2 separate regions of the Homo sapiens genome follow, and region 2 is linked to region 1. The links come from fine-mapping of genetic effects on gene expression. A gene starts in region 1. The other region holds a variant in brackets. All regions are shown on one strand. Distances are from middle to middle.

What was found. PIP is the estimated chance that this variant, and not a neighbour inherited with it, causes the effect.
Region 2: its variant is fine-mapped to the expression of ASPSCR1 in whole blood (TOPMed, PIP above 0.99).

What each region holds. Positions count from the first base shown.
Region 1 is chr17:81,974,481-81,982,791 of GRCh38, reverse strand. ASPSCR1 (ASPSCR1 tether for SLC2A4, UBX domain containing) reads right to left here and starts at 5,163. Exons shown (of 16, transcript NM_024083.4): 1 at 5,044-5,163; 2 at 3,553-3,608. The coding sequence starts at 5,145. LOC124904087 (a long non-coding RNA gene) reads right to left here. Exons shown (of 2, transcript XR_007065951.1): 2 at 6,457-6,681. It overlaps LOC105371939 (a long non-coding RNA gene), which reads left to right and starts at 5,307. Exons shown (of 2, transcript XR_933953.4): 1 at 5,307-5,424; 2 at 5,835-6,824. RefSeq lists a silencer at 4,668-5,527 and enhancers at 5,006-5,777, 5,778-6,551.
Region 2 is chr17:82,012,942-82,021,229 of GRCh38, reverse strand. It overlaps ASPSCR1 (ASPSCR1 tether for SLC2A4, UBX domain containing), which reads right to left. Exons shown (of 16, transcript NM_024083.4): 13 at 4,703-4,754; 14 at 4,361-4,430; 15 at 4,117-4,289; 16 at 3,824-3,921. The coding sequence ends at 3,908. CENPX (centromere protein X) reads left to right here. Exons shown (of 5, transcript NM_001271006.2): 2 at 1,321-1,372; 3 at 1,536-1,589; 4 at 1,849-1,937; 5 at 2,011-2,527. The coding sequence ends at 2,025. Among named protein-coding and RNA genes, the nearest start is that of CENPX, 5.8 kb to the left of the region's middle. RefSeq lists enhancers at 1-97, 4,067-4,788, 5,512-6,233 and a silencer at 5,263-5,557. The variant T/C (reference allele first, on the strand shown) is at 4,291.

The sequences.
Region 1 (8,311 bases):
AGAAAGGAAGAAAAAGAAAAAGAGAAGAAGAAAGAAAGAAAGAAAGAGAAAACAAGAAAGAAAAAGAAAGAAAAGAAAAGAAAAATCTGAATATACTCAAAGTGGTTGGCCTCACTTTGGAAATGCAAGCTGCTGTCGGAGACAACTAGTGAAGAGAGTTCAGACAGCCCAGGGGCATCTGGAAGAATTAAGAGAGAACAAACTTTGCTATATCAACACTGGCCAGAAAAGTGAGTCTGGAAATTGCCACATGAAATGTCTACGTCAAGACAGGATAGCAGATCGGGGGATCCCGAGGGCAGGCAGGCTGGGAACCTTGGAGCGGAGGGCACTGTTCACGCCTGGGGCTGCATTCCTCTGCACCGGCTGCACTTTGTAAGCAAGTGGTACCATTAGCAGAGGAAAAGGGCACCTGAAAACATGGCTATGGTATTGCAGGACCTGCCTCAAAATCGCACTCACTGGTTCCCACCAGACACCACCACACAGACCACGGGCAGGTGAACACTGAGAAGTAACAATGCGCTGGGCGCGGTGGCTCATGCCTGTAATCCCAGCAATTTGGGAGGCCCAGACGGGCAGATCACTTGAGGTCAGGAGTTTGAGAGCAGTCTGGCCAATGTGGTGAAACTCCGTCTCTACTAAAAATACAAAAATTAGCCAGGCATGGTGGCACAGGCCTGTAGTCCCAGCTACTCGGGAGGCTGAAGTGGGAGGAGTGCTTCAACCCGGGAGGCGGAGGTTGCAGTGTGCCAAGATCGCGCCATTGCACTCCAGCCTGGGCGACAGAGCGAGACTCCGTCTCAAAAAAAAGAAAGAAAAATGAGGCCAGGTGCAGTGGCTCACGCCTATCATCCCAGCACTTTGGGAGGCCAAGACGGGCGGATCACTTGAGGTCAGGAGTTTGAGACCAGCCTGGTCCACATGGTGAAACCCCGTCACTACTAAAAATACAAAAATTAGCCAGGCGTGGCACGTGCCTGTAATTCCAGCTACTCAAGACGCTGAGGCACAATAATCGCTTGAACCCGGGAGGCAGAGGTTGCGGTGAGCTGAGATCATGCCACTGCCCTCCAGCCTAGGTGACAGAGCAAGACTCTGTTTCAGAAAAATGGCCAGGCACAGTGACTCATGCCTGTAATCCCAACACTTTGGAAGACCAAGGCGGGCAGATCACCTGAGGTCAGGACTTGAAGACCAGCATGACCAACATGGTGAAACCCCGTCCCTACTAAAAATACAAAAATTAGCTGGGCATGATGGCGCACGCCTGTAATCCCAGCTACTCGGGAGGCTGAGGCAGAAGAATCACTTGAACCTGGGAGACAGAGGTTGCAGTGAGCCGAGATAGCGCCACTGTACTACAGCCTGTGTGACAGAGCGAGACTCCACCTCAAAAAATAATAAAATAAAAAAGAAATAAAAATGAAACCCTAAGCCCCCCCCAACCAACTGAACCAGCCTCCTCTTGGCCCAGGGGACCCCAGAAACCTTGAAAGCTGAGTTCCTGGCCATGGCTGGGTGGGAGATCAGACACATCTGCAGGCTCTCTTCCCTAAGGGATAAACAGAAAGCAGCCCTTTCCAAAGACCCCTGGGCTGGTATCTGACATCAGCCAACCTCCCGCCAGGCCCTTCTCTCTTGCGGTTTCTTCAAAACAACCCACAGGTATTTCCTGATAAGAAACCACCAACCATGGAGTGGTTCTGGCACAGTCAGGGTTTTCGTGGCACAGTCTTCATGTCCTCTGATTTGCCATTTATTTATTTATTTACTTATTTACTTTTTTTGTAGAGACAGGGTCTCACTATGTTCCCCAGGCTGATCTCGAATTCCTGGGCTCAGGCAATCCTCCGCCTCGGGCACCCAAAGTGCTAGGATTACAGGCATGAGCCACTTCACCCAGCCTGCTTCACCTCTGACTTCAGAGGCCAAAAATTCCACCCTCAGGTCATGCTGGCACTGCCATTTTTTGCACATAGGACCCGTGAAGAGGCAGGAAGCTCAACTGTGTGCACAGTTCTCCTTTCATGAATACTCATGATCCTCCTACAGCGTATTAAGTACGTCTGTATCAGCCACCCCATTCGGTGTAAATCCCTGTCTTATTCTTCCCTCTCTTGAAGTGTCTGTTTCCAGCTTCTGGCTGGAGGCTACACTTCCCAGCCTGTTAGAATGGCCACCCTGCAAGCTGCAACCGGTTATGAGAAATAAAGCCCTCCTTTCCAAACATATGAACCGCATTCTTCAGTTGACAAGAGAGACTGGAGAAGGATGGTGTGAAGGTCTGGGGCAGAAAGCCCAAGACCACCTGGCATTCAGAGCACAGGTCCTGGGATTCTCACGTGGTCCAGACACAAGGTAGAAGACTGGAATGACTTGGCAGGTATCACCCCTAAGAAACTCCTCCCAGGAGAGCCTCGTAAGGCAGGGTGGGCAATGCCAGGAGGGCAAGCTCCTGCCCTCTGCCCCCAGTGTTAGGACAACAGTACTGTAAAAACAGGTCTTCAAGGGCAGGCATGGTGACTCATCTCTGTAATCCCAGTACTTTGGGAGGCCAAGGCAGGCGGATCACAAGGTCAGGAGTTCTAGACCGTCCTGGCCAATGTGGTGAAACCCCATCTCTACTAAAAATATAAAAATTAGCTGGGTGTGTTGGTGAGCACCTCTAATCTCAGCTACTCGGGAGGCTGAGGCAGGAGAATCACTTGAACCTAGGAGGTGGAGGTTGCAGTGAGCCAAGACCGTGCCACTGCACTCCAGCCTGGGCGACAAGAGTGAAACCCTGTCTCAAAAACAAAACAAAACAAAAAAAACACCAGAAAACAGGACTTTAAAGTGAAAAGCTTCGCGTGTGGGATAGACACGCACATCCTATCCATATGAGGGCTCTGACCCTTCTGCTGTCTCAGACTCCTTGAGAGTCTGGCAGAAGCCCTCTCTTGGGAACAATATCCCCACACAGAAGCGTACGTGTAATTCCAGGGGCTGTGAGACTGCAGGGATCCACCTGCAGTTTTCAAGGCATCCTATTTCTCCACGGCCAGCTCTTTCCCCTCAGAGCCCCACTGGGAACTTATGCAACTCAATGCAATAAAACCTACAGGGGGTTGAATGGTGGCCCCCCCAAAAAAGATGGGTCAATGTCCTCACCCCCAGGACCTCTGAACATCTTACTAGGGATCCTGGTCTTTGAAGATGTAATGATAAATCGTTCTAGATTATCCAAGTGGACCCTAAATCCAATGACAAGGGTCTTCCTGAGACACAGAGAAAACAGGAAAAGGCCACAAGAAATCGGAGGCAGAGAGCAATGCGGCCACAAGCCACAGAACGCTTGGAGCCATGAGAAGCTGGAAGAGGCAGGAGGGATTCTCCCTTAGGGCATTTGGAGAGAGTGTGGCCCTGCCAAGGCCTTGGGTCTCCAGAGTTGGGAGGGAATATATGACTGTTTAAAACCACCTGGGGGCTTTTCCAAGTGAGAGCCAGTATGTTCAGGGGGCAGGGGCACAGATATACTCAGACCCTGCTGCTGAGCTGGAGCAAACTCACTTCAGATCATATTCACAGGGGTTGAAGTCCTGCCGCCGGCACGTGTCCTCCAGAACCTGGGGGTGAGATGAAAGGATGGTGAACTGCTGAGTGTGCAGGGCTGGCGGGCGCAGTGGGCCAGGTCAGCCAAGGGCATTCAGCTTCCTGGTGAGCCAGGTGGCTCTGCCCAGGCAAAGCCAAGCACAAGACCACACTATGGACGGTCCCCGCAACAAATGCAGGCTCTCACCTGCAAATCCTGTCCACTCTCCCTCCCTTCTTCACCATCCCCTCAGTTTTGTAGGAAAGCTCCACTCAGAGTTCCCCTGCAGTACAGCAACACGGGCATCTTCCTGGCACACACCCTGGGCTCTCCTTCAAACCCTGTAGTTCTGCAACCTGCCTTAAACTTGCCTAGCACAAGCTACCCCCTGGCTCTGGCACGGTTCTGTGCACCTGCTGCCACTGCCTGCACCGCCTCCGCCCCTCTTCTCCATAAAAAGCCAAAGCCGTGGCCTTGCACCAAGGGGTCCCGCGCAGCCTCTGCGGGAGCGCCCCACTTCCGCACTCTGCACGCCTGGCACCAACAGCCTCCTGGCTGCGCCCTCCACCTGCCCAGGCCTGGGGACCCCACGCCGTGGGCTGCTCCCGCAAACTCCGAGTCGTGTGCACCTTCGGATCCTCACGGTCCCCCACGCAGCAGAGGCTCAATAAATACTTTTTTTTTTTTTTTTTGATATGGAGTCTCGCTCTGTCTCCCAGGCTGGAGTGCAGTAGCGCGATCTCGGCTCACTGCAAGCTCTGCCTCCCAGGTTCACGCCATTCTCCTGCCTCAGCCTCCCGAGTAGCTGGGACTACAGGCGCCCGCCACCACGCCCGGCTAAATTTTTTTGTATTTTTTTAGTACAGACGGGGTTTCACCGTTTTAGCCAGGATGGTCTTGATCTCTTGACCTCGTGATCCACCCGCCTCGGCATCCCACAGTGCTGGGATTTACAGGCGTGAGCCACCGCGCCCAGCCAATACTTTTACATTTAATTGATTCGCGGTCACAAGGTGCCCAAGTAAAAGTGCAGTGAGTGACTCGGCAAAAATCGCTTCCAGGCCCCACGGCCGGGACATCTGCCACCGCGCAACCCGGGCTCCCGCTCCGGGGGACGCCCCGGAATGGGAACGCGGGTCTAGGGCTCCACTCCTCCCTCTTCCCGGCGCCCTCGCGAGCTGGGCTCGGCCGGGCGCCGAGTACTCGATGCGGGTGACACGCGGCGCCGTTCTACCTCACCCCTGGGAAGGCTCGCCACCGCCCCGCCCCCACTCGGGACCCCCGGGACCCCCGGGACCCCAGCGGAAGCGCAGGTGACGGCGAGCAGGGGGCGGGGCCGCCGCTCAGGAGGCCGCTCATTGGCCGCCGAGGCCCCGCCCCCGAACACCGGGACGCCGACCGCAATGGGCGGGGCCTCGGCGCAGCGCCCCCCGCCCGCCTACCCGTCCGCCCCGGGCGGGCGGCCGCACCTGAAGCAGCACGGTGCTCGGCGTCACCTTCACCGTGTGGCGCCGGCCGTTCGGGGCCAGCACCGACACCGCGGAGCCTCCGCCGCCTGCCGGGGCCGCCATTTTCCGCTCACGTGACCCGCCGCCGGGCCGGCGTCAAACAACTTTATCGGCAACAGCCAGGACGCGCAGCCACGCGGCCAGGGGGCGGGGCCGCAGCGCACTTCCGGGTCCTGCCAGGCCCCGCCCTTTCCCCACCCACGGCGCCCCGGCCCCGCCCTTGGGCCGCCAAAGCCCGCGCCAGACCCGGAAAGCGCGGTCGTCCTCTGCCTCCGGGAAGCGCGGCTTGGATGGGCTCGCCGGGGCCAGGCTGGGCCGGGGCTGGGCGCGCGGTCACCCCCGGTGAGCGGCACTGAGCCCCGGGGTCCCAGCGGTCCGCGCTCGCCCACCCTCGCTTCGTCCCTGACACGTCCCCAGCTCGGTGCCCTGCTCTCCCCCGACCCTCCCGGCTTCCTCCACTCCAGCAGCTGAGCCTCTTCCCTGCCCACCTGTCCCTGTGGTCAGCGTCCACCTCCTGACCTTATGGTTTGGGGCAGTCCCCCCGCCCCTGTACGGATCCTCCCTGGGTGTTGGGACTCGTGGCCCTCAGTCTAGACCTGATTTCTTTCATCCTAAAATGGGAGTGCAGAATCTGGCAGCCCTAGGGCTGCCGCGACGGTCCCTAAACCTGAGGGTAGGAAAGGCGGGAGACCGGTTTCAGAACCGTGGGGTGAGCGAACTTGAGTCTCACCGGAGCTCCTGCCGACCCACAGGCACTCAAGGACTTCCCGCACCAACCCATGCTGAGGAGGGGCTTGGTGGCAGCCTCAGGAAACACTCCCATCGCCAGCCACCGCAGCAGGGAAAGCACCTGGCCTCACCAGCTCCAGGCTTCCAGAAGGAGCTGCCCTCCTGACTCGCAGCCGTCGAATGTGCTTAGCTCCCAGCACCTGGGCCACTCATGGACAGCACTCGCACGTGTTCCGCCCCGCCCCCCACCTCCATGGCTCAGCCGGGCCTTGGCACTCCTCTCTCCATGTGCCTGCCTGTCTCTGCGGACTCCTGGCTAGGGCTCAGCTGCCCAGTAGCCTGTGGAAGGGGGAACTGGTGCAGTTATCAGTCAATCCTCCCACAGGGCTGGGATTACACACGTGAGCCACCGCACCCGGCAGTCATTGCTGAGTCTAAGGACATCTCTGCATGGGTGCTGTTGTGCCTTCCTGTCGATGACATATCCATGTCACCCACACACACCTGTATGCTGACAAACACGGACATCTATGTACATTGGAGAAACCTGGGGAAAGCCCCAGGCTAGCCATAGCCCTCCCATCCAGCCAGCCAGTCCCATGCTCTGTGCAACCTCAGAACCTTACTGAGCCACACATCACCTGGTGGGTTTTAATTCTTTAGTGGCGTTTTTGAAGAGTCTGTTCCTATTTTCCTTAGACTGTCCCACAGTCTGGATCCTTGGTTAAACGTTTGGGGCAATGATGAAGGGAGGTGACAAGTCAGCAGGAGGTGCAGGACATCAGCGTGGCCATGAGTGAGGACGTGAAGTTGAACCACTTGGTCAGCTTTGGGTCTGCTGAATTCCTCCATGGTCAAGGTCCGTGGCTCCTTGTGGAGTAATTAAGGCATGCGTGAGGTCATTCTCTGAGACCACAAGCATCAAGTTTTCCCAATAACCATTTGCCCAACAGTTTTAGCATCAGTTAATGAGTAGATTCAGTGTTAAACCGTAAAGCTGCAAAATCATGGCTTCCCAAGTTTATTGTTTCTTCTACATTTATAGTCACTTTCGGTCAAGCTTCCCCTTCTTTAAAAAGTTATTAAATATTTGGGAGGCTGAGGCAGGAGAATGGCGTGAATCCGGGAGGCAGAGCTCGCAGTGAGCTGAGATCACGCCACTGTACTCCAGCCTGGGAGACGGAGCAAGACTCTGTCTCAAAAAAAAAAAAAAAAAAAAAATTAAATATGGCCAGGCGCGGTGGCTCACGCCTGTAATCCCAGCACTTTGGGAGGCTGAGTTGGGCAGATCACAAGGTCAAGAGATTGAGACCATCTTGGCCAACATGGTGAAATCCTGTCTCTACTTAAAAAAAAAGTACAAAAATTAGCCGGGCATGGCGGTGCGTGCCTGTAATCCCAGCTATTCGGGACACTGAGGTAGGAGAATCACTTGAACCTGGGAGATGGAGGTTGCAACGAGCCAAGATCGCACCATTGCACTCCAGCCTGGGCGACAAGAGTGAAACCCCATCTTGAAATATATATATTTATTAATATGAATTCATGTATTTTTTTCATTCAGTCAGCATTCTTTTTGATGCTCAAATTGGTCCGAATTTGGCCAGTGAGACCTCCTTTAAGCTGGCTCCTATGCTTTTTTTGATAGGAGGGATGATCTTTTATCCTGATATTATTTCAAACTTAGCCGAGCAAGGTGGCTCACACCTGTAGTCTTAGCTACTCCGGTGGCCGAGGCAGGAGAATTACTTAAGTTCCAGCCTTAGTGAACCACTATTCATGCCTATGAATAACTACTGCACCCCAGCCCGAGCAACGTAGTACGATACCGTCTCAAAAAAGGAGAAGGAGAAGAAAGAAGAAGAGGGAGGAGGAAGGAAGAAAGAGAAGAAAAGTTTGCAAAAGCAAGAATTCCTGCTGTATATCTTTTTTTTTTTTTTTTTTTTTTGGAGATGGAGTCTCCCTCTGTCGCCAGGCTGGAGTGCAGTGGCGAAATCTCAGCTCACTGCAACCTCTGCCTCCCGGGTTCAAGCGATTCTTCTGCCTCAGCCTCCCGAGTAGCTGGGACTACAGGTGTGCAGCACCACACCCAGCTAGTTGTTGTTTTGTTTTGTTTTGTTTTTTGAGACGGAGTCTCGCTCTGTTGCCCAGGCTGGAGTGCAGTGGTGCAATCTCGGCTCACTGCAAGCTCCGCCTCCCGGGTTCACATCATTCTCCTGCCTCAGCCTCCCGAGTAGCTGGGACTACAGGCACCTGCCACCATGCCCGGCTAATTTTTTGTATTTTTAGTAGACATGGGGTTTCACCATGTTAGCCAGGATGGTCTCAATCTCCTGACCTCGTGATCCACCCGCCTCAGCCTCCCAAAGTGCTGGGATTACAGGTGTGAGCCACCACGCCCAGCCTCCTGTATATCTTTTAGCCAGATAAATCAGTGTTTACATGTCACCCCATTTGTTTTATCATATTCTCTTTCTCTCTCTCCATATACATGTAAAAA
Region 2 (8,288 bases), 38 kb before region 1:
GGGATGCTGGACCCTGCTGCCCGCTGCTGGGGAACATTCTTCACCATCTGCATCTTAGGGCTTCACCCGTCCATGCTCTGCTTGTCACCTGCTGGACTGCTCTGGGTGAGGTGCTGTGACCTCCCTGTGGCCGATGCTGGTGGCCTGGCTGGTAGTTCACCCACCTGCCCTTTTAGTGGCCTGTTTCTGGGCTCCTGGGTGCCCACTGCCCCCACCCCCAGTCCTGGACTCTCCGTGCTGGCTCCTTTCCCGGCGGCTGTGGGCCGGTGCCTGGCCTGGGCCACCTCACTGAGTCTCATGGCTCCACCAGCCACCCAGGGCTGCCCTCCTGAGTCTCGGCCGCCACCACTGCAGCTGCCACCCACCACTCCTGTGTTCACACACAACGCATCCCAAACTGATCTCCTGTGTCCTAGCTCCAAAATGCACTTGCCCACGGCCCCCCATCTCCTCAGAGCAGTGCCGTCCTTTTGGGGTCTTGGCGTAGACTCCTCCCTTGTCCCCGTCCTCCATCCATCAGAAAGGCAGAAAGGCCCTGGCTCTGCAGCCCCCTCCCTTCCCCCCACCCCGGGCATGGCAGCCAGAGTGGTCCTTTCCAACGCCAGTGCTGCTTTCCACAAAAACCTAGAGAGGACTCCCAGTTTCCTGCCATGGAGACACGGAGAGCTCATCATGCCCTGGGCCCTCAGCGTCTGGCCCACCCCTCACTCCAGCCTGTGGACCACGCTGGCGCAGCCCCGCTCTGCGCTCCCAGGACACCAGCACCTCCTGCAGGATCATGAGCACCAGGGCAAGACGGGCGGAGCTGACCCAGCACCCAGAACAGAGTTGGCACAAGGAAGGCCCTACTGGTGGCACTCCCTCAGGCCAGCCCACCTGCAGAGCAGCCACCTCCAGCCTCCAGACCCAACCCGGGCTCTGCCTTCCCTGCCTCCCCACAAGGAGAGCAGAGCCATGGCCCTCTGCCGGGGATGGGAGTGCAAGATTAGGCCGGACTCGACGAGGCCTTTCTCCACTCTCTCCCTGGAGCCCCAGCAGCGGGGCCTGCTCCCGTGTCTGCGACCACTCACGCCGTAGGGAGGCTCCCAGCCCAGACCCTGTGCAGGGCCCTGGCGCCCCCTAGTGGAGCTGCCCACGCATCTGCTTCAGCTTCTGCCACCCGAAGCACTAGGCTGGCCCTTGTCCCCTGCCCTGGGAGAGGCTCAGGCACAGAGGGCGTCTCCAGCCAGAAGTCACAGCCACTGTCACCAGAATGGTCACCACCCTGGGGGGTGCGGGGGGGAGGGCGGGGCGTGGCGCTGACACCCCCCTCCCTTCTAGGAGCTGGTGAGCAGGCTGCTGCACCTGCACTTCAAGGATGACAAGACCAAAGGTGCGGGTGGGGGTGCGGGCGGGAGGTGGGTCCCCGTGTCTGTCCTCAGGGACCCTTTCCTGCAACTCTGCAGGGCCAAGGCCTCGGGAGGGCGGGGGTATGTCTGGAGCACCCAGCCAGAGCGGTGGGTGAGGGTCCCGCATAACCTCCCCCTGCCTTGCAGTGAGCGGGGACGCGCTGCAGCTCATGGTGGAGTTGCTGAAGGTCTTCGTTGTGGGTGAGCCCAGGGCCCACGCTCCCTCCGGGCACAGCATCCGGAATTTTGCGTTTTTCCAGCGGGAAAACCAAGACGTGTTTTCCCGTTTCCCACAAGGGCCTAAACTTGGGTCTCCTGAGCCTGTTTGTCAGGTGCTGTGGCCTGGTTCTGGGGGCTGCCCGTGGGTGTTGGGGGGGGCACCGGCCCAGGCTGAGGCCCTCACTGGGCTCGGGTTTAAGATCCCCCCAGCATCCCCCACCTCTCGCGTTTCTCACCGCAGAAGCAGCAGTCCGCGGCGTGCGGCAGGCCCAGGCAGAAGACGCGCTCCGTGTGGACGTGGACCAGCTGGAGAAGGTGCTTCCGCAGCTGGTGCGTGAGCGTGGGTCGGGGCGCAAGTGGGGGTGCCCGGCTGGCTGGCCCTAAGTGCTTCTCTTCCCCACAGCTCCTGGACTTCTAGGGATCTCAGCCGTGGCTGAGGCCACCCCCAGAGGAGCCCCTGGTCCACAGAAGCAGGCCTTGTGTTTCCAGCGGCCTCTGATAAGAGGCAGGGAAGGACCTGAAGGATTTGGAGTTGATTCAAACAAGATCTCTGGGAGTCTCCAGCCTGTGCAGAAGGGGCAGGACTGCAGTGCACTGCGGGCCTTGGAGTGTCCAGTGGGGACACTGGTGTGGGAAGGGGCAGCACCTGGGGAGTCCCTGCCTCTCCTCCCTGGGACAATAGTGTGCATGCCACCCGGGGTCCTACAGGCAGGTGCTGGGAAAGGCCTGGCCAGCAGGTAGCCTGTGTGTTTGACAAACAGCAGCTGGCAGCGCTGCCTCCTGCCCACATTCCTGCCACCCGACATCAAAGCTGGCGTGTGACCTTTCCAGCCATGCGATATTCCCCTTGGAAGATGCTTCCCCAGGCTATAAATTTGTTCTCACAAAGCAACATCAATAAATCAAAACTGTCTCTCCCAGCTTGGCTTTCTTGCCATTAATCACCAAAGTCAAACTGCTTCAAAGCTGCACTTCCCGTGTGTGCCCTTCCACTCCTGGTAAGAAAGCAAAGCGCCAGGAGGATGCACTAACAAACAGCATGTGTGCGAGTGCCTCGGCCCCACCCCCAGGCGCTGTGGAGCCCGGACCACGTACATGTGGCCACCTGCCTGGGAAATGTTATTCCTACCCCAGGGGTTGGGGCAGCCACGGGGGCTGCCACCAGTGGGCAGTGGCTTCCACGAATGTTCCTGTGGTCACAGGCAGGACCAGGATGCACAGGGTGAGAGGGACCCTGGCCCAAGGCCCTGCTGAAATGAAGGCCTCCTCTTTTCCCAAGCAGTGCCAGAGAGGTGCAGGTCAGCCCCCTCGGGCCACGCCCCCTGCCCACCCTTGGAGACGCAGGGCTGTGGGACCTGTCTGGATGCCCCACCCAGGTCTGGCTGCCCTCTGACTCTCAGGGGCCTCTGGCATAAGCCCCACTTGTGCCAACGCTTGGGAAGCGGGCAGGGCCTTGGACCACTTCCCCTCCAGCCCACCTCACGTTCTCTCTCTTGTCAGAGCCCAGGACTGGAAGCACCCCAGGGGCTCTCAGCTGAGCGCCATCCTGGAGCCCCGTGCAGGGAGGGGAAAGGGTAGGGAGTCAGGCCCCAGGGTGGGAAGCACAAAAGCTGCCCCTGGGAACCATCGGAGGCGACCCAGCCTCTCTCCTGCCCTGGTGCCCGAAGACAACTTTGAGGCGAGCCTCTTCATCCTCGATGTAGCCCCAGTGGCCCCGGGCAGGCAGGGCTGCTGGGATCCACCCCTTCCCCGCCCTGCCCACCTCAGTAGGTCAGTTTGAAAGCCCTGGGAGCCTGTAGAAGTCATCAGACTTGCTGGGGAGGCTGGCTGCAGGGTGGACCAGGGCCAGAACCCAGCACTATAGCCCGCTCGGGGGCAGCAGGAGGCCTGAGGCCAGGCCCTGCCCTACGGATGTGGGGTGACCTACTAGCTCCTCCCCCAGCTCCTGGCCCAGGGCTTGGCTCCTGGGTTGCAGGTGATTTCCCCCAAAAGACTTTCCTCAAGCACTTCTGTTCTCCTTGGAGGAAGTGTAAATAACTGTTAGGTTAAAAACGAAGAGGAGACCCACGCGGGTTCAGGATGCACACCACGGTCCACCAGGCTCCTCAGGGGCCCACACCATGGTCCACCAGGCTCTCAGGCCTGGACACTGCGGTCCAGCTGAGCCAGGGCAGACGACGGGGGCCCTTTTCTGGAGGAAGCATGACAGGAAGGCGTTGAGGGATGCACAAGTCTTTATTCCTGCTGGCAGAGGAGGTGGTCCTGTGGCTGGCGGAGTGGGCACCTCAGGCTGGCAGCTCTCACCTCTTGCTGGCTGTAGTGCAGACACATCAGGGTGACCACACACCCCGGGCTCTCACCACCCGGCCACCCGCCCACCAGCCCGGCTGAAGCACTCGGCCCTGCCGGCCACAGCACCTAGCCCCCCAGCCCACTGACCCTGCCACAGCACCCGGACCCCCGCCCTCCACCCGGCCACAGCACCCCACCTTCCACCCAGCCGCAGTACCCGGCAGCTTCAGCCACTTGGGCACCTTGCCCAGGCTCCTCTTCACGGGCTGGGCCGTCCCTGGGATGGGCTCAGGGGGGACCAGCGCCCCCTCCTCAGCAGCTGGCTCAGACTTAGGTGCAGGGTCAGGGGCTGGCAATGGGGAAGGGGACCCGGCGGCCCTGGACATGTACC[T/C]GTGGGGAGGCGAAGACACAGAGTGGTGAGTGCCGCCACGGGAGGTGCCCCCAGACCCACCGGCACTTACCTGGCCACCAGCACATCGGCCGCAGATGGGGAGATGGCATGCTCCAGCAGGCCAGGCTCCAGGTAGACACCTGCAGGGAGGCCCAAGCTCACCCTGAGCCTCTGAGGAGGGGTCCACTCACCATCCACCCAGCATCTGCCCACCAGCACTCAGCTCTGGGAGGGGGGTGGCCAGCAGGTGGCTGTCCCAGTCCTCTCTCGGGGAGGTGGTTACTGGGGGCCGCAGATCTCCCTCTCAGACCCAAAGGAGGCCCCAGACCGAACGCCCTCCCGGGCAGCTGGCTCTGAGGTCCAGGGACAGGCTGGCTGGACTCCGACACTGGCCCCAACCACTGACACTCACCTGCCGGCTCCTCGGCTCCCAAGTGCACCAGAGCGGCCGGGAAGAGGTTCGCCTGCAGGGAGGGCGGGGGGCTCAGGGGCCGGGTGTGGGCAGAGCACCCCCCTGCTGTGAAGGCAGCTACACCCCCAGGGCCAGGCCCCAGCTCCACCCTCAGACAGGCTCTGCCTGCCCGGCCCCCATGAGCCCATCGCCCAGCTTCCTGTCTGACACCAGCCCTACCCCTGTAAGCAAGGCCAGGGCGTCCTGGGACCAGCGCCCTCCATGGGACCACCCCAAGCCCCAAGCCAGCTGAAGGCTGGGGCCTCGAGGGTCCTCAAGCCATGCAGCATCACCGTCCTCCCTCCTCTGGCCTCTGCACCCGAGGAAGGTGGGGCCAGGCGTGGCGGGTCCTGGCGGATGCGCCGGGACCACCGTGGAGGGGTGCAGCTGCCAGGCTGGGGTATCCCCCTCCCAGCTCCAGATTCCCCCTCCCGGCTCCAGGCTGCTCAGGGCCACAGGCTGGGGGTGGGAGTGGGGCTGGGGGATGTTAAAAGATTAATAAGAGGAAGCTTCAAAGGCCAGGCCCAGGAACGCCGAAACCTCAGCCTCCAGCCGGGGGCCCAGGGACACAAACAAGGGCCGTGAATGCTTTGAAAACCCAATTGTGCCGCCTGGGATCAAAGCCTTGTGAGCAGAGAAGGGCCTGTGGGGTGGGCAGGGGCTGCCCGAGTGGCCCTGGAGAGGCGCCGGAAGCTGGGGAGCCAGGAAGGGGGCACGGGGAGGACAGCGCCAGGAGCTGCCATGGTCTCAGCCTCTCCCAGATGGAGAGCATGCTCCGCCACCACCGGGCCTCCAAGATTCACACCCAGGCTGCGGCTGCTCACAGAAGCCCAGGGGACACTGCCCAGAGGCTGCTGTGGGCACAGGAGCCCTGGCCAGCCCCATCTGCATCCCACCTGCTGCCGGGCGAGAGGGCTCCCTCAGAGGCCACCGATGCAGAGAGGCACCTGGTTCTCATCATAGCCCCCACAGGCCAGGACCCCCAACCAGCACTGCCCCACGGGACGCACAGAAAGGGGCGGGCAGGACTCGGGAACACCAGGAGAGGGAAGTAGGCTTGGCAGCCAGGCCTGGGGCACCTGGGCTCCCTGTCTGCGCCTCTGTGCAGGGAGCACTGAGCCAGGCAGCCTACCCGGCCTGTCCCCACGTGCTTGTGCCCAGCCTTGACTCGGGAGGGATCGCCACTGCTCGGACGAGGGGATGGTGGAGAGGAGGGTCGGCAGACTGGGTGGCATGGAGGCTGACCAGTGCTTGGAGAGGCTCGGCCTCTGGATGGACCCCAAAAAAGAAGCCTCCCAGAGTCCACGTCGCCTCCATCTCCTACCACTGGCAAGCGTGTTCTCTGCTCTGGTCCCAGGCACCGTTTCAGCGAGGGACCCAGGGTGAATGGAGCCACCCGGTCACCAAGCTGGGGCTGGAAAGGGAAAGTGGGTCACACCGTCCCCCCAGCCAGAGCAGGGCCCGGGAAGGGCCTTTGAGGGAGGCACAGGCTGAGGGGCCTCTCCCCACCAGCACTGTCCCAGGATGTCTCAGGCTGCCCCTGCCTGGCTCCCTCGGCTGACAGGGAGAAGTGGGGGTGCCCGCCCTGCCCTGACACAGCCTGAGGGCCTGGAGCCGGCCCCTCCCTAGCTGCCGCCCAGGACACTGGGGCCCCAAATCCAGCCGCCTCTCTGCTGCCAACCCCTTGCCCCACTCAGTGTTGCCAGGAAGAGCTTCCGAAAGGAGGCCCACGTCAACCCCCACGGGGCAGCAACTCTGTAGGGGCTGCATGCACACGTGGCCCAGCGCCTGGCCGCCCCCTCCAACGAGAACAGCACCACCCTCCGGGGAACGAAGCCAAGAGAGGAGCCCTTGCAGCTCAAGACGCCCGGGAGGGAGGCGGCACCACAGCGCCTGGGAGGGAGGCGGCACCACCGTGCCCGGGAGGAAGGCGGCACCACAGTGCCTCGGCAGGGAGATGGCACCACAGAGCCCGGGAGGGAGGCAGCATCATGGTGTCTGGGAGGGAGGTGGCACCACGGTGCCCGGGAGAGAGAAGGCACCACGGTGCCTGGGCAGGGAGAGACGGGGCATCCACCCACAGAGCGGGAGTGGGGGCTGCAGGAGCCATCCTGCCTTCTGCAAGACCATTTGTCAACGAGGAACATTTCAGAGGGTCCAGGTGGGGTAGGGCCTGGTGGGTGGAAGGAAGGGGGCCTGTTGGTCCCAGAGAGGCCCCGGCAGTGGGCGACACGGCAGTGCAGGACGGGGCTGTCCTGGGTGGAAAGGAAGGACGACAGAACTGGCTAGGGGCGGGCGCCCAGCAGGCACTCAGGCCAGAAGTGCCAGTCACGCCCTGCCAGGTGAGTGGCTTGGGGAGTGGGGAACCAGGCAGCAAGGGTGGCCTGTGTCCTGGCAGACGGTCCCCAGAGGCAGCCTGAGAGCTCCAACAAACGGAGGGTGTTAGGAGCCAGGCTTGCCCTGCCAAAGCCAATGGAAGGAAGCCCAAACAGCAGAGCCTTTGAAGAGATAAGTGAGGTGACCGTGACATCAAAGGTGGGCCTAGCCCAGGGTGACCTTCCTCATGACCTGAGGACGCGGACCGCACACAGAAGTGACTGTGTGAGGACACCAGGGCAGGGCCAGCCCTGATGCCCAGGGCCAGGACGCAGGTTTCAGGCAGGGGCGGGGGGCTTTGTTCCCCACAGTGGTGCCCCCACACTGCTCACAATTCCCTGTCCTCACTCCTGGCCGCCTCCTCCCAGCCCTCCCAGAAAACCTGCACTCTCCTGGGCCAGGGCCACAGAGGGCTGCCGGGCTACCGGAGCCCCCACACCCACGCACGCTGTCCCTCTCGGAAGCCGGGGGCCGGCCCCTGGACATCCCCCAGGCAGCAGGCAGCCGGAGTGGGGCTCTGCCAGAGACGTGAAAGCTGGTGCTTCCGCGCCCGCCGCCTGCTTGCCTGCCAGGGAGGCAGGCTTCCTTCCCTCAGCCCCGCCAGCTCTCTGACGGCAGGCAGGCAGGCAGGCACGTCACCGGGGACACCACCCCGAGAGGCCCCGAGGCTAGAGCCGAGCTGATGGAGGGCAGGAGACGGTGGCTGGTAGGGAAGCCAAGCGTCCCCAGAAACAGGGCAGCAGCACCCCAGTGCTCTCAGGGGCCTCCCAGCGGGAGGGTGGGCTGCAGGCCTGGGCACTGGTCCTCCTCCATCCCAAGGCATCTTCCAAATTCAATGTTTATCAACTGGCTGGCCAGCAAGGGAGGGGATGGAGACGGAGGAAGGAGGCCCGGAGTCCGCCCGGCAGCTCGGGGGCTGAGAGGGGACTGTCTCACCCCTCCCCTGCCTCCGCTGCAGGGAATCCCGCTCAGTCCTGCTCCTGATCACCCCTGGCAGCTGCCAGCCTTCTTGCCCCAGCTCAGTAAGCGGCTGCAGCCCCAGGCAGTGAGCAAGCTTCTCACCTCCAACCCAGGCCTCTGTAGAGGCCTGTGGCCACTTAAAAAAAAACCCGCCTCTGTGGCTAATTAAAATATCTGAAGAGGCTTTGAAGAGGAAACCATTAGGCCAGAG